Linked DNA regions of Homo sapiens. The protein of the gene in region 1 purifies or fractionates together with the protein of each later gene. This does not show direct contact. Each region holds a gene or a part of one and is shown in the gene's direction. Other genes may lie near its edges. The genes, in order: SRI, TIAL1, TKT, PPA2, FXN, ACBD3 and MPI.

The links.
Region 2: the proteins of SRI (region 1) and TIAL1 fractionate together in Homo sapiens (co-fractionation; one large-scale study listed by BioGRID). This does not show direct contact.
Region 3: the proteins of SRI (region 1) and TKT fractionate together in Homo sapiens (co-fractionation; one large-scale study listed by BioGRID). This does not show direct contact.
Region 4: the proteins of SRI (region 1) and PPA2 fractionate together in Homo sapiens (co-fractionation; one large-scale study listed by BioGRID). This does not show direct contact.
Region 5: the proteins of SRI (region 1) and FXN fractionate together in Homo sapiens (co-fractionation; one large-scale study listed by BioGRID). This does not show direct contact.
Region 6: the proteins of SRI (region 1) and ACBD3 purify together in Homo sapiens (pull-down; one large-scale study listed by IntAct). This does not show direct contact.
Region 7: the proteins of SRI (region 1) and MPI fractionate together in Homo sapiens (co-fractionation; one large-scale study listed by BioGRID). This does not show direct contact.

The regions. Positions count from the first base shown.
Region 1 is NC_000007.14:88,213,539-88,217,038, reverse strand, and holds part of SRI (sorcin), read left to right. Parts: intron 1-281; exon of another isoform or gene 282-379; intron 380-454; exon of another isoform or gene 455-596; intron 597-2,102; exon of another isoform or gene 2,103-2,463; intron 2,464-3,500. UniProt on the Homo sapiens protein: Calcium-binding protein that modulates excitation-contraction coupling in the heart. Contributes to calcium homeostasis in the heart sarcoplasmic reticulum. Modulates the activity of RYR2 calcium channels.
Region 2 is NC_000010.11:119,590,465-119,593,964, reverse strand, and holds part of TIAL1 (nucleolysin TIAR), read left to right. Parts: intron 1-445; exon of another isoform or gene 446-513; intron 514-1,847; exon of another isoform or gene 1,848-1,989; intron 1,990-3,500. UniProt on the Homo sapiens protein: RNA-binding protein involved in alternative pre-RNA splicing and in cytoplasmic stress granules formation. Shows a preference for uridine-rich RNAs.
Region 3 is NC_000003.12:53,246,023-53,249,522, reverse strand, and holds part of TKT (transketolase), read left to right. Parts: intron 1-3,500. UniProt on the Homo sapiens protein: Catalyzes the transfer of a two-carbon ketol group from a ketose donor to an aldose acceptor, via a covalent intermediate with the cofactor thiamine pyrophosphate.
Region 4 is NC_000004.12:105,443,063-105,446,562, reverse strand, and holds part of PPA2 (inorganic pyrophosphatase 2, mitochondrial isoform 1 precursor), read left to right. Parts: intron 1-60; coding exon 61-180; intron 181-3,500.
Region 5 is NC_000009.12:69,042,252-69,045,751, forward strand, and holds part of FXN (frataxin, mitochondrial isoform 1 preproprotein), read left to right. Parts: intron 1-3,500.
Region 6 is NC_000001.11:226,180,242-226,183,741, reverse strand, and holds part of ACBD3 (Golgi resident protein GCP60), read left to right. Parts: intron 1-3,500. UniProt on the Homo sapiens protein: Involved in the maintenance of Golgi structure by interacting with giantin, affecting protein transport between the endoplasmic reticulum and Golgi. Involved in hormone-induced steroid biosynthesis in testicular Leydig cells.
Region 7 is NC_000015.10:74,888,697-74,892,841, forward strand, and holds the start of MPI (mannose-6-phosphate isomerase), read left to right. Parts: upstream 1-1,345; 5' UTR 1,346-1,377; coding exon 1,378-1,393; exon of another isoform or gene 1,394-1,501; coding exon of another isoform or gene 1,502-1,505; intron 1,506-1,741; exon of another isoform or gene 1,742-1,830; coding exon 1,831-1,958; intron 1,959-2,682; coding exon 2,683-2,883; intron 2,884-3,964; coding exon 3,965-4,106; intron 4,107-4,145. UniProt on the Homo sapiens protein: Isomerase that catalyzes the interconversion of fructose-6-P and mannose-6-P and has a critical role in the supply of D-mannose derivatives required for many eukaryotic glycosylation reactions.

The DNA.
Region 1 (3,500 bases):
AAACTGAGCTTGTCGGATCTAGCAAAGTTTAGAATTCCGAAAGCTAAAATACAGTACTATTTCAAAATGTTGATTTGAAAACAGTTTTTAAATCACTCCAGGCTGGGCACAGTGGCTCACACCTGTAATCCCAGTACTTCAGAGGCCCAGGCAGGAGGATCGCTTGAAGCCAAGAGTTTTTGGCTGCAGTAATCTATGATTGTACCACTGCACTCCAGCCTGAGCAACAGAGCAAGACCTTGTCTTTAAAATAATAATAATAATAAATTATTCCATCCTACCTGCCAATCTAGTGGATTTCTCAGATTTGGGTTTTGTGTACCTAGAACCAGTGAGACAGTTTGGGTGGCCTCCTTCACAGAGGACAAGGTAGGGTGCTGAAATGGAATCTGCCAGGTCAGGGGTCATTAACTGACATTAGGAACTGATATTTACTGTTATTTGCCAAGAGCCTACTCTGCCCTGACCTGGTGGCACTTAGGGCTTTGAGTTGCTGCCCTGCACCCCTGGTCCCTGAGTGGCCTATCCTGCACTCCTGGTCTCTGAGCTTTGGGCATGCTCCTGCTAACATAAGTGGTTGCCATGACATCCCTCAGGTCTTTCCTCTTCCACTTCATAGAATGTATTCAGGCTAAGTGGGAAGTGGCCTTTCTACTTACTGGACCTGCTGCTCCATAATTCAGCCCTTACCCTACCCCTGCCTTTTGAACACTCTGCCATGAGCTGAGAGTAATGAAATACTGCAAAGATGCTCCATCCCTGGCAGGGCACAGTGGCTCACACCTGTAATCCCAGCACTTTAGGAGACTGAGGTGGGAGGATTGCTTGAGCCCGGGAGTTCAAGACTAGCCTGGGCAACATAGTGAAACCTTGTCTCTGCAAAAAATTTAAAAATTAGCCAGGCATGGTGGCATGCACCTGTGGTCCCAGCTACTCAGGAGGCTGAGGTGGGAGGATTATACAAGCCCAGGAGGCGGAGGTTGCAGTGAGCCAAGATTGTGCCACTGCACTCCAGCCTGGGTGACAGCCTGTCTCAGAAAATCCAAAAAATTGCTGCATCCCAACTGGGGGCTTCTCATCATCCAACACATATGAAGTGGTTCCTCTTGAAATTAGATCTTGAACATGATAGATTTCCAGGGTAGAGAATAATGTCTTAGTTCAAATACATTACCAACTTCTTTGCCAGTTGTTAATTGAGACAAAACATCAAATTGAAGACCCAATTTCATGGTTAGCTGTGGATTAAAATGTTCAAACTAGAATTCACAGCTGTGAATTTATAGTGGCCTTTTTTTAAAAACTATTTGACATGGCATGTATTAGATGGCTGTCTTTGAACTCTTTGCATTTGTTTTCATTATCCTTTGTTTTATGTGACTTTAGTATCCTATTACTCTTTCCTAATTAGAGGAATTAATACAAACGAAGAACCTTTCAAGTTCCTGTTATTTAATCTAGTCCTAAACAAAATAAGCACTTTTTGGATTAGGGGATGTTATTCTTTACTGTGTAGGCAGTACATTTAAATTGTTAATTGTTACGCAATTGAGCTGGTAAACAAGGTAGGCCTGCCTATTAGCAGGGTTTATCAAAGTGCAGTGAGATCACAGCATGGCCTGTTATTCTACATCCTTTCAGTAGATGAGGTGTGGCAGATTTTAGAATCTGACTAACAAAATGGGTTGTATATTGTTAGAGAGCAGTCCTTTTAAAATTTCATTGAGAAAGCCACATTTAGTGATGGCCTTAGATCAATGCATTAAAGAGAAAGCATTTCCTGAATCATGGGGCCTATGTGATTGAATCCATTTGCCTACTCTCTGGTGGCCGTACTGAACCACAGAACCATCCTGCCTATGAGGTGTCAGTGTTTTGTAATGCAGATATTATATGGCCATTAGTCTTTTAAACCCAACTTCCAAACCAAAAAGCACAGGTCCGAATTGGATGAGCAGGTGGGATACTCCAGCTCAGAGCCTATGGGCCCTTCTTAACCAGTTTAAAAGGAAGCAGTCATACCTAGAGGTGGAGTTGGTGAGAGAAGTTGTGTTCCAGTCAGTAAGATTGTAATTCAGCTTCTCTTTTTTCCCTGAATTTAGTTGTTCGTCTGTGATAAGGTTGAGAGAAACAGCTGGAGGTAGGGCTTTCCTTCTAGGTCCATTATATTGTATGTTTCTGTGAGAAGAAAAGATGTTTGAGGCATTCTAGTAGAATGAACAGAAGAGAAGAAAAAGAGTAAAGGTAAATTACAGCAGAGATTCTTTGGAAATTATTAAAATTAACATTATTTAATTTAAATAATTTCAAAATGTTGAATTAATAATTTTAATTATAATTTATAGTTATAATTATATGTAGTTACATTTACGTAACTAATATATAATACTTATAATTTTAATTAATTTTAAATAATTATTTAAAATAGAATTAACACTAATAAAAGCTATATTATTAACAAAATTGAGAAAGAGTTTTCCTTACCAAAACTTATTGGACATCAGCGTTCTAGTTCATTGGAACTGTCTAGAATGGTGTATTTTTTGTTCATTCACTTTTGTTCACTGCCATCTCACTGCCCTTTCAGATCCTTCTCACAAAAGATGACCAGATTCCTGATCTTCCTGATCTGTCCCTCTCCTCCTCAGTCTTTACTAACAGCTTAGAAGGAATTCAAGGTCCTCTGTAATGCACCCTCCCCTGACCAAACATATTTTCTCCCACTCCTTTTGTACTCTTTGAAAGTCATATTGAGCTATTCACTTACGCTTTGCCTGTCCTAGGCCTTCTACTTCTCTCTTTGCTTATGCTGGTCCTTAGCTGTCACCAAATGCCCCCATCATTCTTGTCATTCAAGGCTTGGCTTAAATTCTTTGTCTTCTATAAAGTCTTTCTTGATTCTCTTACTGGGAAGGAGCTTCTCACTTCTCAATCCCTTCTGGTACTTTCTGGCCCCTCCATTATAATTCAGCACTCTACCATGATTAGGGTTATATGTGTATGTGACTTATCTTTTCCTTAGACTGTCAGCTAGGACGGTATGCAGTTTCACAACTGTATCTGCAAAGTTCCTGTTACCCTGAGCCCTGAACATAATAAGTACTTAACAGTGGCTGTTGAGTTAATGAATATGGAAAATTTTCTGTGTCAGAAAAATTATAGCCCTGTAGCCTTATTGGCTTTTTGATTTAAGATTATACATTAATTTTTGAGCATTAGTAAAGATTAGAAAATTTTATTCAAAAAACATTCCTTCTTAGACGATCTAAGAGGGTTGTACATATAAAGTGCAGGGCTCTACAGCTTCCTGCGTGGGGGTGAGAATTTGGTGCCATCCATCCATACCAGTGCATTTTTAGTGAATACTTCCTATGAGCTAGGTGCTGGCTCTGTAGCCACAATCAATGCCTGGGTGTTGGGAAAAGCACTGGGATAAGAGAGAGGCTGTGGAATCACATAGAATGGGCACATAACCCAGACAGGAGTCAGGAAAGTTTTCC
Region 2 (3,500 bases), on another chromosome or scaffold:
ATTAAATTAGTATTAAGTTCTTTTTTAAAAGTCCTGGTTGAACTAAGATTGTAGGCAGACATTACTGTCACATGTGGTGCAGTCTGTTGACTTTTATATATTTTTTAAAACCTTCAAATGTAAAATCTTGAGATAAAAGCAAATGTTTAACAATTGGGATTTTTATTAGAGTTTAATACAAATAATGCATAGTTTTTCTAAGTGTACGTTTTACATATTCTCAAAGGGTTCTATTAGATATAAGTAACATGATGAAAACTGAACATGATTTTAGACGTTGATATCTAGTAGGGTTTTTTGTTTATGGAGATCTTATATTTTACATTGTGAGCTATGGATTAGGTTTTTCAAGTGGCCAGTATGTTTTAAAAGAATGTGTTCTTAACAAAGCTTATCTTAAATTGTTTCCTTAAGATGCCTGTGTGTTACTAGTGAGGTTTTTTTCCTGCAGACACACACAAGCTAAGACATATGGTTCTATCTTCAGAAAACAATATGGTGTTTAGAGCCTAGGTAGGTCTTTAAATATTCATTACCTACAGTATTACTAATTTATTTGATGGTATTTAAAGTGGCAAGAATTGCTTTGATGTTGAGCCTAAATTTCTATTTGTCATATAGTTGCTTTAAAGGTCTGTTTTCTGATGTTCTTCATTCTCATTTGACATTTATTTTGGGGTATTATGCATTGAGTAACTTGTGATCTAAAAAAACAAACAAGATCATGCTGTGTAATACTGGTGTTGGAACTGGACTGTCTGACACCTGCCTTGTGGGACACACATTTCAGGCTTGGGTTGTGTGTATCTTTGTAGTGCAGTGATTTGATCCATGGTATATCTGAATCTACAATATGACACTAAATTGTAATAGTGTTTTATTGTAGCTTATTTTATTTTCTTCATCTATCGGATGCACCAAAATTGCTAGGAATTCGTGTAATACCATGTTACACAATCCCTTCCTTTAAGGCTATTCTTTCTTCCTGGAAATAAGCTAATGATTTAGAGTATAATCTGAACATCTAAGAACAAAGCAGAAGAAAATTCTATAAACTATTACAAAATTGACTGGCTATACCATGGATTTGGCTATACTGTGGCTATAATCAAGCCCCTCATTCAAATTCAACTTAATCATATTCTTTGTTTCTTTAAAGTAAGAGAGAGAGAGTGAGTGTGTGTGTGTGTGTGTGTGTGTGAGAATATCTCATATATATAGTTGGTCAATTTAGTTGTACCTCCTGCAGCTATCTTCCATCATGCCTCCTTCCTAAAATGAAATACTGTACCGACAAATTGAACAATTAATTAGAGATCTATTGAAGGATATTATTGCAAAATCTCTTCTTGTATAGGACTTGTCAAGAACAAAAGCAAAACTATTATGGAAATTTAGCTATAGTTTTTTGTGTGAAAGTGCTGATAATTTCAGCCTTGGTAGGGCTACTCTTTTCAGAGTGAGAGCACATTCAGTGTTGAAAAAGTGTCATTAGTCTTCTGAAAGGCATGATATTCTTAACTTAAAATTCTGCCCAGTCGGACACAGGAAGTAGTTTGGCAATGTGAATTTCTGCCTACTGTGAAACTGCTAAGTTTTTAGCCCCAAATTGGATTTTAACCCTGATATTAGAGATAAAGGTGTCATTTTCAGTTTTTAATGCTTCAGTTCCTACAGTTCCTGTTCTTAGAAGACAAAATAGACTCTAAGGTATGCCTCTTCTGAATTTTTTCGTTGAGTTAAAAATCATTTTGGAATTTCCTAAGTGTTTACTCTTTGAATTGACCTCTCAATACAAAAATTAGAGCCATTTATCTTTTTTCTGTTATTTTGTGTATGTTCTTTAGGTAGCAATTATATATTTAAAGACTTGGATCTTTAGCTTGACTATTTCATAACCAGAGCAGAAAGAAAGTGAAGTGTAGAAGCTATAATTTGGAACGAATAAAGATGTCATTTCAATGAACTACCAAGAGATGATCTTACTAGGTCAGGCATTGAACTTTGTCTTAAATATTTTTGTTAGTATTTACTTTGGGACAGATTATTTTATGATACTGTAAAAGTACTTAAAATAGAATAGTACAGTATTTTAAAAGCTATACAATACGTCTCTCAAGTGTTATGATGCACGAAGGCAAATGTAAATGAAGAGGCAATCTGAAATTTGGGTACAAGAACTCAGTAAAAGAAAAGGCAGTCTGAAATTTGGGTAAAGTTTAGGTGAAATTATATAGTGAATCATGGCCTTTTAATCCTGGTAAATTAAGATATTGTATGTGTTGTTATGGAAGGCCTTTCATGTTAGTTTTTGAAATTTAGTTTGCTGCTTAACATTTAACTTTTAGTGGAGATAATTTGAAAAATAGGAAACCTTAATACTGGATTTTTAAATAAATATTTCATGACATTCTAAACTTAGATATTAACGTTTTCATCTTTGCTTTCAGTGCTAGAAATGTAAATTAATATATCTAAATATGCCTCTAGAAATTCTTCAAGATCTGTAACTGGCGGGAAATAGGTTGACTTAGAATAAAGATTTTTTTTTTTTTTTCAGATGGAGTTTCGCTCTTGTTGCCCAGGCTGGAGTGCCATGGCGCGATCTCAGCCCACTGCAACCTCCACCTCCCGGGTTCAAGTGATTCTCCTGCCTCAGCCTCCCCCAAGTAGCTGGGATTACAGGTGCCCGCCACCATGCCTGGCTAATTTTTTGTGTTTTTAGTAGAGACGGGGTTTCACCATGTTGGCCAGGCTGGTCTTGAACTCCTGACCTCAAGTGATCCACCTGCCTCGGCTTCCCAGAGTGTTAGGATTACAGGTGTGAGCCACCACACCTGGTGGAATAAAGATCTTATTAAGCAGTGACGGCTTTTTTTGTGACTATTAGATATAGAAGGTAACTAATTCCAATACAGTTTTTCCTGAAGAAATTGATGTTTAAACAGTAATGGAAATTTAAAACTATTTAAATCATTTAAAATGTGTTATATTAAAATGATAATTCTATTTTAATTTTGTTATTAGCTAGCTTCAATATGTGAAAACCAGTTTTATCCATCCTTCTTTTCTCTTAGAAGTGAGCTAACTAGCCCTTTAGGCAAGGAGCATAATGTTTAGAAGCTCAAGATCACTTGTTCGTTTCTTTCTTTCTTTCTTTCTTTCTTTCTTTCTTTCTTTCTTTCTTTCTTTCTTTCTTTCTCTCTTTCTCTCTGTCTCTCTCTCTTTCTCTCTTTCTTTTTTATTTATTTTTTTGAGATGGAGTCTCACTCTGTCGCCCAGGTTGGAGTGCAATGGTGCAATCTCGGCTCACTGCAACCTCTGCCTCCCAGGTTCAAGCGATTCTCCTGCCTCGGCCTCCCGAGTAGCTGGGATTATAGGTGCGCGCCACCATGCCCGGCTAATTTTTGTATTTTTTGTGGAGACAGGGTTTCACCATGTTGGTCAGGCTGGTCTCAAACTCCTGACCTCATGATCCGCCTGCCATAGCCTCCCAAAGT
Region 3 (3,500 bases), on another chromosome or scaffold:
GTAACCTCCACATCCTAGGTTCAAGCGATTTTCTGCCTCAGTCTCCCAAGTAGCTGGGATTACAGGTGCATGCCACCACTGCCCAGCTAATTTTTGCATTTTCAGTAGGGATGGGGTTTCACCATGTTGGCCAGGCTGGTCTTGAATTCCTGACCTCAGGTGATCCTCCCGCCAGCCTTGGCCTCCCAAAGTGTTGGGATTACAGGCGTGAGCCACTGCTCCAGGCCCTTTTTCTTTTAAAAACAAATTTTTAGGCCAGGTGTGATAGCTCACACCTGTAATCCCAGCACTTTGGGAGGCCAAGGTGGGTGGATCATTTGAGGTCAGGAGTTCGAGACAGCCCAGCCAACATGGTGAAACCCTGTCTCTACTAAAAAATACAAAAAAAATGAGTCGGGCATGGTAGCAGGCACCTGTAACCCCAGCTACTCGGGAGGCTGAGGCATGAGAATCGCTTGAACCCGGGAGGCGGAGGTTGCAGTGAGCCAAGATTGTACCACTGCACTCCAGCCTGGGTGACAGAGTGAGAACTTGTCTCAAATAAATAAATAAATAAAAATAAAAACAAATTTCTAGCAGCTTGATTAAGGTATAATTGGCGTATCATAACATTGTAAGTGATTTTAATGAATTTGCAGAGATTTACTACAAAAATTTACCACATCTCCTAAAAGATCTCTTCTGGACATTTGCTGTCACTCCCCATTTCCACCCCCAGTCCTGGGCAACCACTAATCTAATTTTCTGTCTCTAAATTTAACTCTTCTAGACATTTCATATAAATGCAATTATACAGAATGAGTTCTTTTGGGTCTGGCCTCTTAGCATAATTTTTAGAGGGTCATCCATGTTGTAACATGAATCAGTACTTTGTTCCTTTTTTTTGGGGGGTGGGGGGCAGGGTCTCCACTGTGTCCCGAAGCTGGAGTGCAATGGCACAGTCATGGCACACTGCAGCCTCAACCTCCCGGGATCAAGCAGTCTTCCCAGCTCAGCCTCCTAAGTAGCTGGGAGGCACTCACCACCATACACAGCTAATTTTAAAAATTATTTGTAGAGACAGGGTATGTTGCTGAGCCTGGTCTCAAATTCTGGGCTCAAGTCCTCTTCCTGCCTTGGCCTCTCAAAGTGCTGGAATTAACAGGCATGAGCCACCACGCCCAGCCCTTCATTTCTTTTTACGGCTGAATATTCCGTTGTGTGGACATAGTGCATTTTGTTTATCCATTCACCAGTTTTTCTTAGCATTTTGCTCTTATCCTAGCTCTGCTGCTGGCAGGCCGTGTGACTTTAGGCAAGTCACTTTCTGTGAACCTTAGTGGCCCCATCCTCCGAATGAAGCATAGTCTAATATTTACTGAGCAATTGCTAATTTCTATGCATGGTGCCACGTTCTGTACATACACACTACATCATTTAGTCAGATTCTTCTTTTACCTCCGTTTTATAGTGAGGAAACTGAGGCTCAAAGAGGTTACAGCCCCAAGGTTACTAGGATACATCATGTATTCATTTGTGCACTCAGTTTGTGCCTGGTACTATTCAAGCCTGTGGATACAACAGTGAAAGGCCCAAAGCTCTGTCCTCAAGGAGCTTGTATTGCAGTAGGGTAGACAGGCAATAACCACCTAATGTCAGGTGGCAAGCATGAGTGAGGGGAAGAAGAGCTATTTTAGACAGTGTGGTCAGGGAGGGCTTCTTGGAAGAGGTGACATGGGGCAGAGATCTGAAGAAACAACCTGAGGTCTGGAGCCAGAGGTTCTTTCCGGGCAGAAGCCAGCTCGGGTAGTTCAGGGCACAGGAAGAGCAAGAACTGCTTCTGATGTTCATTTCCACCCTGACATCCTGGGATTCTCTCCTGAGTATTTTTTTTTTTTTTTTTTTTTTTTGAGGTGGAGTCTGTTGCCTAGGCTGGAGTGCAGTGGTGCGATCTCGGCTCACTGCAGCCTCTGCCTCCCAGGTTCAAGCAATTCTCCTGCCTTAGCCTCCCATGTAAAGTAGCTGGGACTAGTGGCCCGCACCACCATGCCCAGCTAATTTTTGTGTTTTTAGTAGAGGCGGGGTTTTGCCATGTTGGCCAGGCCGGTCTTGAACTCCTGACCTCAGGTGCCTCAGGTGAGCCACCGCCCCTGGCCTCTTCTAAATTTTTTTTTTTTTTTTTTTTTGAGGCTGAGTTTCACTCTTGTCTCCCAGGCTGGAGTGCAATGGTGAGATCTCAGCTCACTGCAACCTCTGCCTCCCAGGTTCAAGCGATTCTCCTGCCTCAGTCTCCCAAGTAGCTGGGATTACAGGCACCCACCACCATGCCCAACTAATTATTGTATTTTTAGTAGAGACGGGGTTTCACCTTGTTGGCCAAGCTGGTCTCAGACTCCTGACCTCAGGTGATCCACCTGTCTCTGTCTCCCAAAGTGCTGGGATTATAGGCGTGAGCCACCTGAATATTTAAAAAAAAAAAAGTATATGCATAAAGAAGAAGATAAATGATGTACTCTTGTCATAAATAATGAACCTGTGTGTAGCTGCTCCCAGGATTAAGAACTAGTACATTACAGTGATTTTTGGAACTACAGTGGGTCCCTCCATCCTCATCTTCCCTTCCCCTGAGAAAGAACTATACCCTGAATTTTTTGTTTGTTATCATTCTATTGTTTTCCTTTTTTTTTTTTTTGAGACGGAGTTTTGCTCTTGTTGTCCAGGCTGGAGTGCAATGGCGCCATCTCGGCTCACTTCAACCTCCGCCTCCCGGGTTCAAACGATTCTCCTGTCTCAGCCTCCCGAGTAGCTGGGATTACAGGCATGTGCCACATGCCCGGCTAATTTTGTATTTTTAGTAGAGATGGGGTTTATCCGTGTTGGTCAAGCTGGTCTCAAACTCATGACCTCAGGTGATCTGCCCTCCTCGGCCTCCCAAAGTGCTGGGATTACAGGCTTGAGCCACCGCACCTGGCCTGTTTTCCTTGTAGTATATACAAAAAGACTTGTACATAAATCAATATGGTCTTCTTTGTTAAACAGATCCTTCTGCACTGTGCTTTTTTCACACTATATTTGGGAGAGAATATTGATACCGGATTTGTGAAGTGTAGCTCGCTCATTCTTACTGCTGTATAGTATCCCATTATATTAATATATTCCAGTTAACCTCGTCTATTGATAAACATATAAGTGAGTTCCAGGTCTTGCAATTGCAAACAATGCGGGGCAGCCCTGTTTGTGTTTCCTTTTTTTTGTTGTTGTTGTTGTTTTTTTCCTGAGATGGAGTCTCACTCTGTCACCGAGTCTAGAGTACAATGGCACGATCTTGATTCACTGCAACCTCAGCCTCCTGGGTTCAAGTGGTTCTCCTGCCTCAGCTTCCCAAGTAGCTGGGATTACGGGTGCCTGCCACCATGCCCAGCTAATTTTTGTATTTGTAGTAGATACAGGGTTTCACCATGTTGGCCAGGTTGGTCTCGAACTCCTGACCTCAGTTGATCCACCCACCTCAGCCTCCCAGA
Region 4 (3,500 bases), on another chromosome or scaffold:
GGACATAGAATTAATTATTTCTTATCCCATCTCCTTTTCTTCCTTCTGTGATTTGCTTAGATTGCCACCAAGGAGCCAATGAATCCCATTAAACAATATGTAAAGGATGGAAAGCTACGCTATGTGGCGAATATCTTCCCTTACAAGGGTTATATATGGAATTATGGTACCCTCCCTCAGGTAACATTTTTGTTACAATGGTAAAATGTTCCTGTCTTCTGAAAAAATTGCCTTATAAATCCTGTGAACTACTGAATTTAAATTGGTTCTGAGGACATGTCATTTGGAGAGGTTTGTAAATTTGGAATTTATTAACGTGGATGGAGTTTTAGTATATCAATAAATTTTGTTTTAAACCATATATATGTCTATACTCAAGTTCTTGGAGTCAGGCATATGGAATGTTCACATTTGACATTTTGAATACATTTTTTTTTTTCTGGTCTTGCCTATTAAGTGTCAGTGAAAAACTTTTAAGCGAGGCTTTATCTACAGTCATTCCTTTGAACATGACAAGTTATGCTTTTATACACATTCATATATGATAGCACAAATTTTATATTTTAAACTTTAACAGATGAATGTGTTAAATTATTAACTTTTTCCTGGAACTCATTGTAAATTGAATTGCACAACTTATTTACTGTTATGAGTTAATAATTTTTAAGTAGAAAGCAGAGAAAACAAGAGCTAAATAATGATAAGGTAGCATTCCTGTTGGAGAATAACAACTATTTGCTTTTCTTCCTTTCTTTACCTCTTTTGGTTTTCTCTCATGTTTCCTCATTCCCAGGAAGAGGTAACTCTTCCAGATTATTTAGTGAGTAAAACTCAGAATATGCTGAATCAAAATTCTAGGTTTTGGGGACACAGAGAACCATCTGCCTTTATGTTTATAAAAACCATAGACCATCTGTCTGGAAATTTAATTTTTATATTTTTATTTATTTTAATATTTTGCATGAAATTTCAAGATGGTATTGGGGAAATATCTGAGAAGAGAGGTCTTGTTTTATCCAACATGAAAAAGCAGCTGCCCGTGTAGAATAAACATTCACAGGAAAATTTAAAAAAAAATTGTTTTCTAAAGAGTCAGGCTGTCTCTGATTCAGTTAGATCACCCACATGGATACATTCTTGGTTAAAATGGGCACTTCTAAAGTGATATGCTAAGAATGAGAATGCCTGTGGAAACCATGAAAGCAGGTTTTCTAACTCTCCAGGTACTTAAATAGGTATGCTGTTTGACCCAACAGCAAAAGGTTGAAAAAGTTCTGTAAAGCTTAGGGGATGCAGCCTGTAGGAAATGTGTGGATGAGGGTAATGCTGAAGAAGCCAATGAATTAGAGACAGACAAAAACAGAGACGTAAGTAGAGGAGCTAGAGAATAAACTAAGGTGCATGTATTTATTTCTTTAAACATTTATTAAGGATTTATGTGCTAGGCAGGATATTAGGTGTTGGGTATATAAAGACAGATGGGATATAGATGTGACATCAAGGCCTCATAATAAGTGACTGGAAAATGTGGGTTTGGGAGTGAGATTGTCACTTTCTAGTAATGTGACCTTGGGCCTTGGGAAAGATACTTTTCCTCATTTTCTTCATCTGTAAAATGGAGAACATAAAATATCTACTTCTTATCTTTGTGTTGAGATTAAATGAGTTACTGCATTTGAATAGTGTGTAACATGTAGTAATCAATTATTGTTATAATTAAGACTGGTACTTTTATTATCGTATGGTTCTTTCCCTAAAGTTGTTTTTAGTCTGATTGGGGCAATCAAGAACTAAACTGCTGGTTATGATGTGGTATAATAGGCACTACTAATTCATCTACTAATTTAAAATTATGAAAAAAATAAAAAAGCAAACCTATTGACAGGAAAGAGAGAAGGGGAGGAACGGAGGTAAAAACAAAAGAAGCTTCTGTAGTTTTCCATTTAAAGTCCTGCCAAACTTCTGTGCTCCTCTGGATGTGTCTGGATTTCCAGATGTTCTGCAGTGGTATTAATCTGGCAGGTACGGTAGTTCTTCTACTAATAAAACAGAATTAGACTGTGGTAGTCCCTTAATTCATTATTCACCCTGCATTCACCATTGCCTACCTAAGTTTCATACTCCATCCAATATCCAAATTGATATTTTTAAAACACAAATTTGCAGATGCTTTTCTTGTACAAGAACACCTTAATGGTCTCCTGTTGCTTAAAAGATAAAATACAAAATTCTTAACATTGCTACTCAACCCTGTGTGATCTGGCCTCCGCTTACTTCTCTATCCTCATTTTGCAGCATTCCCCCTTTCTCACGTCTATCCACCACAAAGTCTTCTTCAGTGTTTCTAACTTACCTCATTGTGTCCTCACCAGGCCTTCACCAAACTGTTCATTCATTCAGTACATATTTATTAAAGGCCTGTATATTTGCAAGGTGTTCTTGTAAGTACTGCAGGTAAAGCAGTGATAAAAAGTGACAGATATTTCTCTGGAGCTTTTATTTTAGTCAGATAAACAGACAATAAACAAAATAAACCCCAAGTAAAATGTCAGGTGGTGGTAAGTATGTCAAAGAAAAGTTAAGCAGGGAATGGGACTAGGGGATATTAGGATTGTTGCAATTTAGACAGGGAGACGATCTCAGTGAAAAGGTGTTATTTGAGTAAAGATCTAAAGGAAGTGAGGGAACAAGTAGTGTGGACATCTAGAGGAAGAGCAGTCCAACAAGAAACAGCAAGTATAAAGGTCCTGAGGTGGAAATAGGCCTAGCATGTGTGAGTATCAAAAAGGAAGCCAGTGTGGCTAGAATGGAAGTGAAAGAGGAAATAGACCTGCATTCTGTCTGCCATTTTCAATTAGAGATCTGTACTACTTTTTTAAACCTGACTGATCTTGGAGAGAGAGAGAGAAAAAGAGAGAGAGAGTCTGTGTGTGTGTGTGTGTGTGTGTGTGTGTGTGTGTGTGTGTGTGTGAATACACCATAAATTGCATATAAGTTAGTTATTTATCAAAGAAAATAACTAAATTGAATGATGTTTTTAAGAATGCTGAAATCATGCCAATTGCTTATGGGATAGCTTATGGAATAGCTCTACCTGATTTTTTTTTTTTTTTTTTTTCTGCTTGATGGTTGATGTTCAGACATGACCCTGTTAAAATGAAAGCCAGCCCCTGGTCCCATTTATCTTTTTAATCTCATCTCCAACTCTCCTTCTGCCTTCTGCTTCTTCACTTCCACACTGGCACTCTGGTGCTCAAAGCACACTGATGTCTCAAGCCCTCACCTTCACTGTGTCCTTTCCTGGGAACACTCCTTTCCAGGTATGCACATGGCTTCCTTAGGTTGCCTTTAACTCATCTTCTTCATAGTATCTGCCAATCATCCTTTAAAACTTTTAACCCTACTCCCATTCCCCCTCTCATACTTTATTTCCCTTTTCTATAACACCTGCCAAATTGTAACCTGCTGTATAATTTATTTATTATGTTTATTGTTAATTT
Region 5 (3,500 bases), on another chromosome or scaffold:
AAAGGAAGAACACTCATCCTATGACCTTGACCTCCAAGCTTTGCCTCCCTCAAGCAGAACAGAATGGAGCCTCCCTTAGGCAGAGGCGGAAGTTTGCCTCTCACCTAGTTCTCCATTCTTTTGTTCAGAGCCTGAATACCCTCAGGCTCTGTACTTGGGGTATTTCTGTTCTCTTGTTTTATGCTCACGGTTGTGAGGTTTGTTGTGAGTACCACGATCCCTTCCTTCAGAGGAGTAAACTGAGGTTCCAAAAGGTTTAGCAGTTGCCCGAGGAATATTAAATTGGCAAAAGCAGGTAGAATATAAAGCAAGGAGTATTTGGCAACGGTTCTTTTTTATGATTAAAAACAGCCGAAGAAAGACTTCTACTTGTGCCTTTGAAGGAGTAACTGCATTTGACCTTCCCACCAGTAACAACCATCAAATCTCTATTAAATTAAACACACACACACACAAACAAAAACAGCTATTGTGAAGGTATCAGCGACTAAGACAACTAAGGTTTGAGGGGCCAGGATCCTGGAGAGATGGAAACTTCCCTGAGGTGAGCCCCACATTCTCAGACACTTTTCCTTGGATGTTTTGAGCACTGCTTTAATTCCTGGGAAAACAATTCCTTCCACTGTGCACAGACTCTGGGGCCAGACAGCTTGGGTTCAATCCCAGCTCTGCCACTTAATGTCTGTGTATCTGTGTAGGCAAGTTACCCTTTGGTGCGTCAGTTTCCTCATCTGTAAAACACAACTATAGTTGATCCTCATTCGTTAAGAGTCTGTACTTGTTAATTTGCTCACTTGCTAAAATTTGTTACCCCAAAATCAGTACCCCTAGCCTTTTGGGGTCGTTTCAAAGATGTGTGCAGAGCGGCAAAAAAATGTGAGCTCCTCCAGGCTCATGTTCCCAGCCAAGGTCCAACAAAGTGCTGCCCTGCCTTCTTATTTCAGCTGTCATAGTGTAAACTGTGTCCTTTTCACAGTCTGATTAGTGCCATGTTTTTCAGATTTTTATGCTTTTTTCTTGGTTATTTCTCTGTTAAAATTGTCTCCAAGTGTAGTGCAAAGTTTAGCACGAGGAGGCTGTGATGTTCCTTACAGAGAAAATGCATGTGTTAGAGAAGCTTTGTCAGGCATGAGTTAAGGTGCTGTTGTCCTGAGATCAATTAATTTGTTGTTGTTGTTGTTTGAGACAGGGTCTCCCTCTGTTGCCCAGGCTGCTGGAGTGCAATGGTGTAATCATAGCTCACTGCAGCCTCTACCTCTCTGGCTCAAGCAATCCTCCCACCTCGGCCTCCTGAGTAGCTGGGACTACAGGTACACCCCACCACACCCAGATAATGTTTTTGATATTTTTTTAGGTGGAATTTTGCTCATCACCCAGGCTGGAGTGCAATGGTGCGATCCTGGCTCACTGCAACCTCCACCTCCCGGATTCAAGCAATTCTTCTGCCTCAGCCTCCTGAGTAGCACAGATTACAGGCACATGTCATCACGCCTTGCTAATTTTTGTGTTTTTAGTAGAGGCGGGGTTTCACCATGTTGGCCAGGCTAGTCTTGAACTCCTGACCTCAGGTGATCCACCCGCCTCCGCCTCCCAAACTGCAGAGATTATAGGCACGAACCACAATGCCCGGCCTCATGTTTTTTATTTTTCAAGTTGAAATGAGGTCTCTCTATGTTGCCCAGGTTGGTCTCAAACTCTTGAGCTCAAGTAATCCTCCCACCTTGGCCTCCCAAAGTGCGGGGATTACAGGTGTGAGCTACCATGCCCAGCCAAGATCAGTGTTAATGAATCAACTATATATATTACATAAGGTGTCTTTAAACAGAAATAAGGTTATATATTGATCGATTGGTAACAATGTTGTGACCAGCAGCTTACAGGGTACCTAGCCTTGTATTTCTCCTATAAATAATTTGCTCGTTGAGTGTTTGTGGCAACTTTGTAGCACATAACTACCAAGAATAAGGACTGTAATAAGAGTACGTCCCTCACAGGATTGTAATGAAGACTGAGTCCATTTACATAAAGGCTGAGAGCAGTGTCAAGCAGATGGAGAACACTGTAGAATGTGCGATAGCTCTAACAGTGGTTATCATGGCTGCCCTCTCACTTCTTCAGAGACATGTGTTTCTAAGGTCTGCACTCTGCCCCACCCTCCCCATCCACTGTCCCCCAGCCCGTTTCCTCCTCCACTTACTTCCCAGCCCTGTGCCTTCTGCCTTCTCTTTTCTGAGTTTGCTAAGGGCACTGCTGGCTCAAGAGCAGTAACTAACAGTCTCTCGCCTCTTCTCTCCATGGCAACCAGTGACCTTTGGAGAATGTAAACCTTATCACCAATCTCTTAAAGCCCTTCGGTGCCTTCCCAGGATGACGTCCAGCTGAGGTCCTTGGCAAGACCCAGGGCGCCCCCTCCTCGCTCCATCACCTCCCCTGTCACCTCCCCTGCATCTCCCTACTCCAGCTGCACCACTCTTGTGCCCCAGTGGCTCTTGTCTGATTATTTCCTTCATCTCCCCAGCTGGTCAGCAGAGCTGGTGGTAATCAACTCAGACCCTGTCACCTGGATGTCCAGCAGTTAGGGACTAAAAAAAATCAACAGGTCACATTCTGTCCTGCAGATCATGATAATAAGATCTGTCAGACAGCAGTCAGCAGTCAGAGCCAAATCTTCTGGACTTCAGCAGGATTCTGCCTCTTGCTATTTCCTGTTGCCTCTCTTAGTGACCTTTTAAGAGCATTGTGGATGCCTCCCAGCCTCCTGCTAACCACCCTGTAACCTGAACAGCCTGCAGCAGCCCTGCCCAGTAGAACTTCCTGATGTGATGGAAATGCTGTGTCTGCACCACTAGCCACATGTGGCCACAGGATTCTCGAAACTGGTGGTGCAGTTGAGGAGCTGACTTTATATTTTATCTCATTAAATTTAAATGTAAATAGCTACGTGTGGCTTGTTGGCTAGCCTATTGGAAAACACGGGCTTAGAGAGACACAGGGAGAATCACTGTAATGCACTAAAAGAAGGTAAAAAAAAAAAAATCCTAAGAAATATTCCTAAAATACTTTAATATAGGGCTGGGTGCGGTGGCTCACATCCAGCATTTTGGGAAGCTGAGGAGGGCAGATCACTTGAGGCCAGGAGTTCAAGACCAGCCTGGCCAACATGGTGAAACCCCGTCTCTACTAAAAATACAAAAAATCGGGTGCGGTGGCGGGTGCCTGTAATCCCAGCTACGCGGGAGGCTGAGGCACGAGAATCACTCGAACCCGGGAGGCGGGGGTTGCAGTGAGCCGAGATCGTGCCACTGCACTCCAGCCTGGGCGACAGAGCGAGACTTCATCTCAAAAACAAAAAACAAAAACCAAAAAAAAAAACTTCAGCATGATTATTTAACCAAAATGCAGGTTAGTTGTTCACCGGATGCAGAGTCCAATTAACAAGAGCAAGGCCTGGTACCAAAAAAAGTGAATTTACTCCGAAACTAGCTTGGGTGAGGGGTACA
Region 6 (3,500 bases), on another chromosome or scaffold:
CAGGTACTTTTGTATTTCTAGTAGAGACGGGGTTTCTCCATGCTGGTCTCGAACTGCCGACCTCAGGTGATCTGCCCACCTTGGCCTCCCAAAGTGTTGGGATTATAGGCGTGAGCCACCGTGCCCGGCACCTTTGTTTTAATGTGTGGATTTTTCTGGTGGAACACATGGTGTTTTGTCAGTCTTGCTGGGACTTTTAATCGCTATTCTATGGTTTTATACCAGTATCTCACGAGAATTAGAAATAACATTACATTTTCGGCCGGGTGTGGTAGCTTTTGCCTGTAATCCCAGCACTTTGGGAGGCCGAGGCGGGTGGATCACAAGGTCAGGAGATCGAGACCACCCTGGCTAACACGGTGAAACCTCATCTGTACTAAAAATAAAAAAATAAAAAAATTAGCTGGGCGTGGTGGCAGGCGCCTATAGTCCCAGCTACTTGGGAGGCTGAGGCAGGAGAATCACTTGAACCCTCAAGGCGGAGCTTGCAGTGAGCCAAGATTTCGTCCCTGCCCTCCAGCCTGGGCAACAGAGCAAGACTCCATCTCAAAAAAATAAATAAATAAAGGAAAGAACATTACATTTTCTCTTCCACTGTGGAATAAATACGAATCTTGAAAGCATGGATATATTTTTCCATTGCAAATAGCTTGGGTTGGAAATGACAAGCCCTATTTCTTATTCCATCCTTGTCAGGGTGGTAATAGGCCAGTGACTGAATCAATTACGTCAACTATTCTTAATTTTTTATGACAGTAAAAGTAAAATAGATGAAGATGTGGGTAAATGTAAGTTAGCATTTTACCATCTAAATTTCAGACATTATTGACTTTTCAGTATGGATAGTTTTATATTAGGTTACAACTATAAATGAATAGTACGTTATCTTTTGCTTAGAGTCCAAAAGAGGAGTTAAGGACCCAGTGACAACTGCAGTACAGTGTGGAGGACTGAGGGAGCAGATGCCATTCCAGAGGGGGGAAGGCCAAGAGCCATGAAAGCCATGAGAAGTCAAAGCATGTCTGTTTGCAAAATGGAAAATAGAAAGCAGTTTGATGGAGAGAGCTGGGAAGGTAACTGAGTTCAATTCTTGGAAGGACTTGCATGCCATTGTCATTTTTTTTTTCTGAGACGGAGTCTTGCTATGTCACCCAGGCTGGAATGCAGTGGCATGATCTCCACTCCCTGCAACCTCTGCCTCCTGGGTTCATGTGATTCTCCTGCCTCAGCCTCGTGAGTAGCTGAGCTTACAGGCTTGTGCCACCACACCCAGCTAATTTTTGTATTATTAATAGAGATGGGGTTTCACCATGTTGGCCAGTCTGGTCTTGGACTGACCCCAAATGATCTCCCCGCCTCGGCCTTCCAAAGCGCTGGGATTACAGGCGTGAACCACCGCGCCTGGCCATGTAAGTATTAATAGTTCGGCCTTTTTGTCAGTAAATTAGAAGATGAGGAACCACTGGAGGTTTTTAAAGGGAGGAGCAAAGTTGCTCAATTCTTTTTTTTTTTTTAGACAGTCTGGTTTTGTTATGCAGGCTAGAGGGCAGTAGTGCGATCTTGGCTCACTGCCCCCTATGCCTCCCAGGCTCAAGCCATCCTCCCACCTCATCCTCCTGTGTGACTGGGACCACAGGCACGAGCCACCATGCCCGGCTAATTTTTGTATTTTTTGTAGAGACAGAGGTCTTGCTTTGTTGCCCAGCTGGTCTTTAGCTCCTGAGCTCAAGCGATTCACCCGCCTTGGCCTCTCAAAGTGCTGGGATTACAGGCATGAGCTACCACGCCCGGCCAGAGTTGCCCAGTTCTATTTTAACAATGTTAAGCTAGGTTTTCTTATCTCCATGGGTTAAGGACCCACAGGAATCCAGTGGGTTCATTTTATTATGACCTTTATACTTCTTGGATGGAGTTGACCTGGGGAATTGTATTTTGGTTTTTAGAGTTCTTTGGGGTGGACTTTTCCTTCTCTAATACTTTATTACTGTATTACATTAAGCTGGTAGATTGTTTACATTAATTTAAGATTTCAGAGTAATAATTGTCAATAGTTATTGAGTAGATGTTTACTAAATCTCAGGTACTATGCCAAAAACTGTATGTACATTATTTTGTTTAATCCTCCAAGAGGCCTTCTGTAAGGGTATTAATCCCATTTCTGAGTTAAGGATCCTGCCTCAGGCCCCTCAGTTATTTGGAAGGTAAGTCTTGGACTCATTTTCTTTATGGAATAGTTCTACTAGCATTGCTATTGATTATACCCAATTGTGTTACTGATAGTAGAGTATTATATGTTGGGAGAGAATTATATTAATGATAGCAAACAAATGGACAACTGAAATGGTTCCATTTCCTCTTGTCTTCTTTAAACATAGGCAACTACAAGAGCATTTATAAATGGCTTCCTTAATGTTTTAAAATACTGTACAGCTGTAATTTATTCATTGGAAACATATATAATTAGTGTGCCTCCTGGACTTCAGTGGTCTATCCTCAGATAATTTCAAGTTTGTTACTATGGAACATCTATTAGAGTTCTTTTTCCCTTTTATTATCTTTACCTTTAGACATAAGTATGTAATACTGTAGGAGGATATATAGACCTAAGAGAGACAGATGTAAGACAGAAAAACAATTATAGCCACCAAGTTCATGTTAAATTTGAGCTGAACCAAAACTTTCCTTTGACTGGATTCAGGAATGTGTATGTGTTGTTGTTGTCATTGTTTTTTTTTTTTTTTTTGAGATGGAGTCTCATTCTGTCACCGAGGCTGGAGTGCAATGGCGCGATCTCAGCTCACTGCAGCCTCTGCCTCCTGGGTTCAAGCAATTCTCCTGCCTCAGCCTCCCGAGTAGCTGGGATTACAGGCACATGCCACTACGCCCAGCTAATTTTTGTATTTTTAGTACAGACAGGGTTTCACCATGTTAGTCAGGCTGGTCTCGAGCTCCTGACCTCAGGTAATCCACCTGCCTTGGCCTCCCAAAGTGCTAGAATTACAGGCGTGAGCCACTGTGCCCAGTGTGTATATGTTTTTAATGTAAGTGATTTTAACATTTTCCCGAGGCTTCCCTTTATCACACATGCAGTGCACTAAAGTACACAAATACTAAGTGTGTAGCTTGATGAGTTTTCAGAAAGTGGACAGTGTAGCCAATGCCCAGGAGCAGATGTTTTATCAGTTAACTAATACAAGAGCTACTGTGAATCAGTATTTAGAAAGGTAAGCTCTGGAGTCAACACTCTTTAGGGTGTGTTTTCCTTGCTCTGCCACTTAATTTTGTTAACTTTTTGTGCTTTCCTGTACTCAAAGGGTTGTTTTAGGAATTATAAGAAATTATATATATAAACTCTTAGCAGAATGCCTGGCTATTGGTATTTTTGTGGCTGCTTATGTTGTTGAAAAGGAGGTACTTCTGAGAATTGATTATGGATGTTTTGAGTTAATGGAGGGGAAGTCTTAAAACTTTTACTAAGCAGTTAGTATATGCTAGGCAAT
Region 7 (4,145 bases), on another chromosome or scaffold:
ACCCCAGGGGAGGTGAGATAGATACCCACACCTGGGCAGAGGATTACAGGGAAAACGGCACCCGCTCTTTCCCCTGGGCACATATGGTAGAGGCTGTGGGAATGAGGGTATTGCAGGGGTGATGAGGGTAGAGTCAGGACTGTAACTCCTCATTCCAGGTTCCCCGGAGCTTTGACTGTTGTGCTCCTAGCCTCAAGCAATCCTTCTGCCTCTGCCTCCTAAGGTGCTAGGATTACAGGCCTGAGCCACTGACTGTCCTCCTCCTAGGAGGCTGTTGACTGAGAAGGTCTGGATGTCAAAGCCTTTCACCACAGGATATAGCCAAGATTACTGCAGAGCCAAGGCCCAAGGCCATCCTTCCCTATGCACAGCTCTTCGTAATTCCCCTGACTTCTGTGTGTGCAACTTGTAAGCAGCTCAGCCTGGAGTAGAAGTTGGGGTTCTGACTTTCTACAGCACCTGGGACGGGAAGGATCAGAGGAGCACAGGGAGCTGACTGCCTTATAGGTGTCTCACGTCATCCCATCTGACCCTCCAACAAGCATGTCAGGCTGGCATTATTCACCCCATTCTACAAAGCTCAGAGCAGTGAAGGGCCTTGCATGTGACATTTACCATCATCATCACTAGTATGTCCCTACTCACATCACAGCAATTCTTTGCTCAAATCTGTAATTGCTGAGACTCGAAGTAAAACCCAAAGTCTTCACAATAGCAATAGCCTGCAAAGCTCTGCCCCCCTCCTCTCTTCTCTGACCTCCTCACTGCCCCTGTCTTACTCACTCTGCTCCAGCCACAGTGGCCTCCTTGCTAGCAGTTCCCTCCCCAACACGCCCGGCACAGTCCCACATTCCCGCCTTGCTCTGGCTTCCGCTGTGGCTGTTTCCTCCCCGCAGAACACTCCTGCCTTCCTCACCGCCAAGTCTGGACTCAAACCTCACCTCCTCAAGAGGCTTGCCCAGACAGCCTTTTATATTCTGCAAACTGCCTCCCACTGCCACCTGCCCCCTTACTTTTTGTGGCCTTGACCTTTCAACATACTACATGATTTGCTTACAATACTTGTCTGTCTTGCCTTCACCAGAATGTAAGCGCTCTACAAAGGCAGAGGGAAGGCTATCTTGCTCTCTGATGTATCCTCCAGCCCTTAGAACAGTCCGTGGTACTTAGCAGGTTTTCAGTACATCTGTGCCCGGCGATGGAAAGAATGAATGAATAGTGAGACCGAAGATCGCGGCCGTAAGCCTCTGGGCACGGGTGCCCCGGGGCCTGGCGGAACGCTCAGGGAACTACATTTCCCGTGAAGCTCTGGGCGCAGAGGGCCGCGGGGGCTGCCGGGAAAGGCATACGTGCTTAATCCTGGTGCAGGGGGCGAGCATGGCCGCTCCGCGAGGTGAGCCATTGGCTGGGGTGTCGGCGAGTGTGTTCGTGGAGCGCGTCCTGGGGACGACTCCCGGCATTATCGGCCAGGTTGAGTCCGCTCCTGGCATTCCGCGGAAAGATGGGTGGGTGCCGGGCAGAGGTGTGGCCACCTGCGATGGGGATTGACCTCCGAGGGGAGGGGGCCCTTCTAGACGTCGTGCCGTGGGATAGGTACCTTCTGCTCCCTCCCCGCCACCCTGCCTCAGATCAGCACAAGGTCCTTACTGCTGCCCATCTGACAGTTGGGAACATCGAGGCCTGCAGCGGAGGGGGGTCTCATCCAACAGCCTACAAAACCCTTATTTGACTCTGTCCCCAGTGAGCACCCCCAGCTCTTGCCTGGTTTCCCGGGACACTAGGGTGGGGCCTGAGGAGTGGAGTGGCAGCTGACCCTGTCTGTGCCCCTAGTATTCCCACTTTCCTGTGCGGTGCAGCAGTATGCCTGGGGGAAGATGGGTTCCAACAGCGAAGTGGCGCGGCTGTTGGCCAGCAGTGATCCACTGGCCCAGATCGCAGAGGACAAGCCTTATGCAGAGGTGAGCCCCGGGCTGTATTTCAGCCCACTTTACCCGCAGGTCAGGAGAAAGGGCCTGAGGCAAGTCATAAGAATCAGCTGGGAAGGGTGAGGCAGCAAGGAGGGAGGAGACCCACTTGGCTCTTCAGGCTAATGGACTAGATAGTGTTATCAAAAAGAAGAGAGGTTTTGTCATAATAGGCTGGGATTTCCAGCACTCTCCTTCCCCCAACCACTCTTAGCACTTAGTGAATTTTAATTCAGCCCTCTTTGACAATTAAGTTTTTTTACTTTGACTATTTTTTTGCATTTTTATTAACCTAAAATATTTCTCCTGCCTATTTAGTGGAGAAAAAGCCAAAGCATAGGAAGGCTTTCGCCTCTGCTTCTGAAACTGGAAGATGTATGTTAACCCCTGAAAGAATCATTTAAGAGTCATAGTTTTTCTGCTACCTTGACAGTGCAGATGTCATTCTCCTCTTTGGACAGACAAAGAAGATACATCTAAAGAAGGGAAATAACTAGTCCAAGTCTTCATAGATGGCTAGAGGCCGAGTCTGGACAAGGGCCTGGGTCTACTGCCTCCCTGTATGTCCATGATGGCATGAACATTTGTATCCAGACCTGGGAGGCCTTTCCCAGGACTCAGTTGCCCTGTGGGGAGCACAGCATAACGGATTGGGACAGGCCAACTCAGGGTGGCAGGTTTCTTCCCCCTTCCCCTCCCAAGTTTCCTGTCTTTCCAGTTGTGGATGGGGACTCACCCCCGAGGGGATGCCAAGATCCTTGACAACCGCATCTCACAGAAGACCCTAAGCCAGTGGATTGCTGAGAACCAGGACAGCTTGGGCTCAAAGGTCAAGGACACCTTTAATGGCAACCTGCCCTTCCTCTTCAAAGTGCTCTCAGTTGAAACACCCCTGTCCATCCAGGCACACCCTAACAAGGTAAAGGACAGAGTGCGGTGCAGAGGTCAGGGTACAGAAGGGCTTATGCTAAGGCCCTCCCGTGACTTTTACTGCCACTTTTACCCCACCCATGCCAGGCTCCTGCCCAAGGCCAAATCCAGGCTGACAACTCCCAATTTAGCTCTGCAAAGCCAGATGGTAGTGACACATGCAGCAACTAAGTCTAAGCAAACAGCTCACCGGCCTGTGCCAGGGGAGTTTCTCTAAGCTCATTCCAAGGGGCTTGTTCCTGGTCTTCCCTCATCCAACCCATGTCTATTCATATCTGCCATTTACTCATCTGCTTTCAGGAAGAGTTCAACTTGCAAGGCAGGGCAGGTACCCTCAGCCCCACCCCCATGGAGTCTCCCTACACAAGCCGGAGTCCCATCCTAAGCAACTGTGGATCAAAACTCCTTTTTTTTTTTTTCTGAGACTTGAGTCTTGCTCTGTCGCCCAGGCTGGAGTGCAGTGGCGCGATCTCGGCTCACTGCAACCTCCTCCTCCCAATTCAAGCAATTCTTCTGCTTCAGCCTCGCAAATAGCTGGGACTACAGGCACGCGCCACCACACCCAGCTAATTTTTGTATTTTTAGTAGAGATGGGGTTTCACCATGTTGGCCAGGCTGGTCTTGAACTCCTGCCCTCGTAATCCGCTCGCCTCAGCCTCCCAAAGTGCTGGGATTACAGGCGTGAGCCACCATGCCCAGCCAAAACTCCTTATTTCTAGATACACAAAGTAAGACCCAGAGAAGGGAGGGATTTACCAAAGCCACACAGCTTGTTAGTGTCAGAGCTTGGTCTGGTATTTGGGTTTCCTGATTCACAGGCCAAGCCTCTTAAAGTCTGCCCCAGCTTTTCCCTGATTTGCCCCGGGGTTGCCCCTGATTTGCCCCTGCCCTGGGTTGGCTGAGCCCCAAGTTTCTGCAACATGCTTTGACTGGGCTCCTTGCCAGAGGTAGGTAGTCACTGCCATCCTGCAACTGGGGAGGGTGGACAGCAGGGGCTAGGTGGCACTGGTGTACCTGCTAGGTAATGGCTGTACCCTCACCATCCTCCTCTTCCCCTGGCCACCCCACAGGAGCTGGCAGAGAAGCTGCACCTCCAGGCTCCGCAGCACTACCCCGATGCCAACCACAAGCCAGAGATGGCCATTGCCCTCACCCCCTTCCAGGGCTTGTGTGGCTTCCGGCCAGTTGAGGAGATTGTAACCTTTCTAAAGAGTAAGTTGGGCAGAATGCTGAAGGCATGCGTACTGGGCC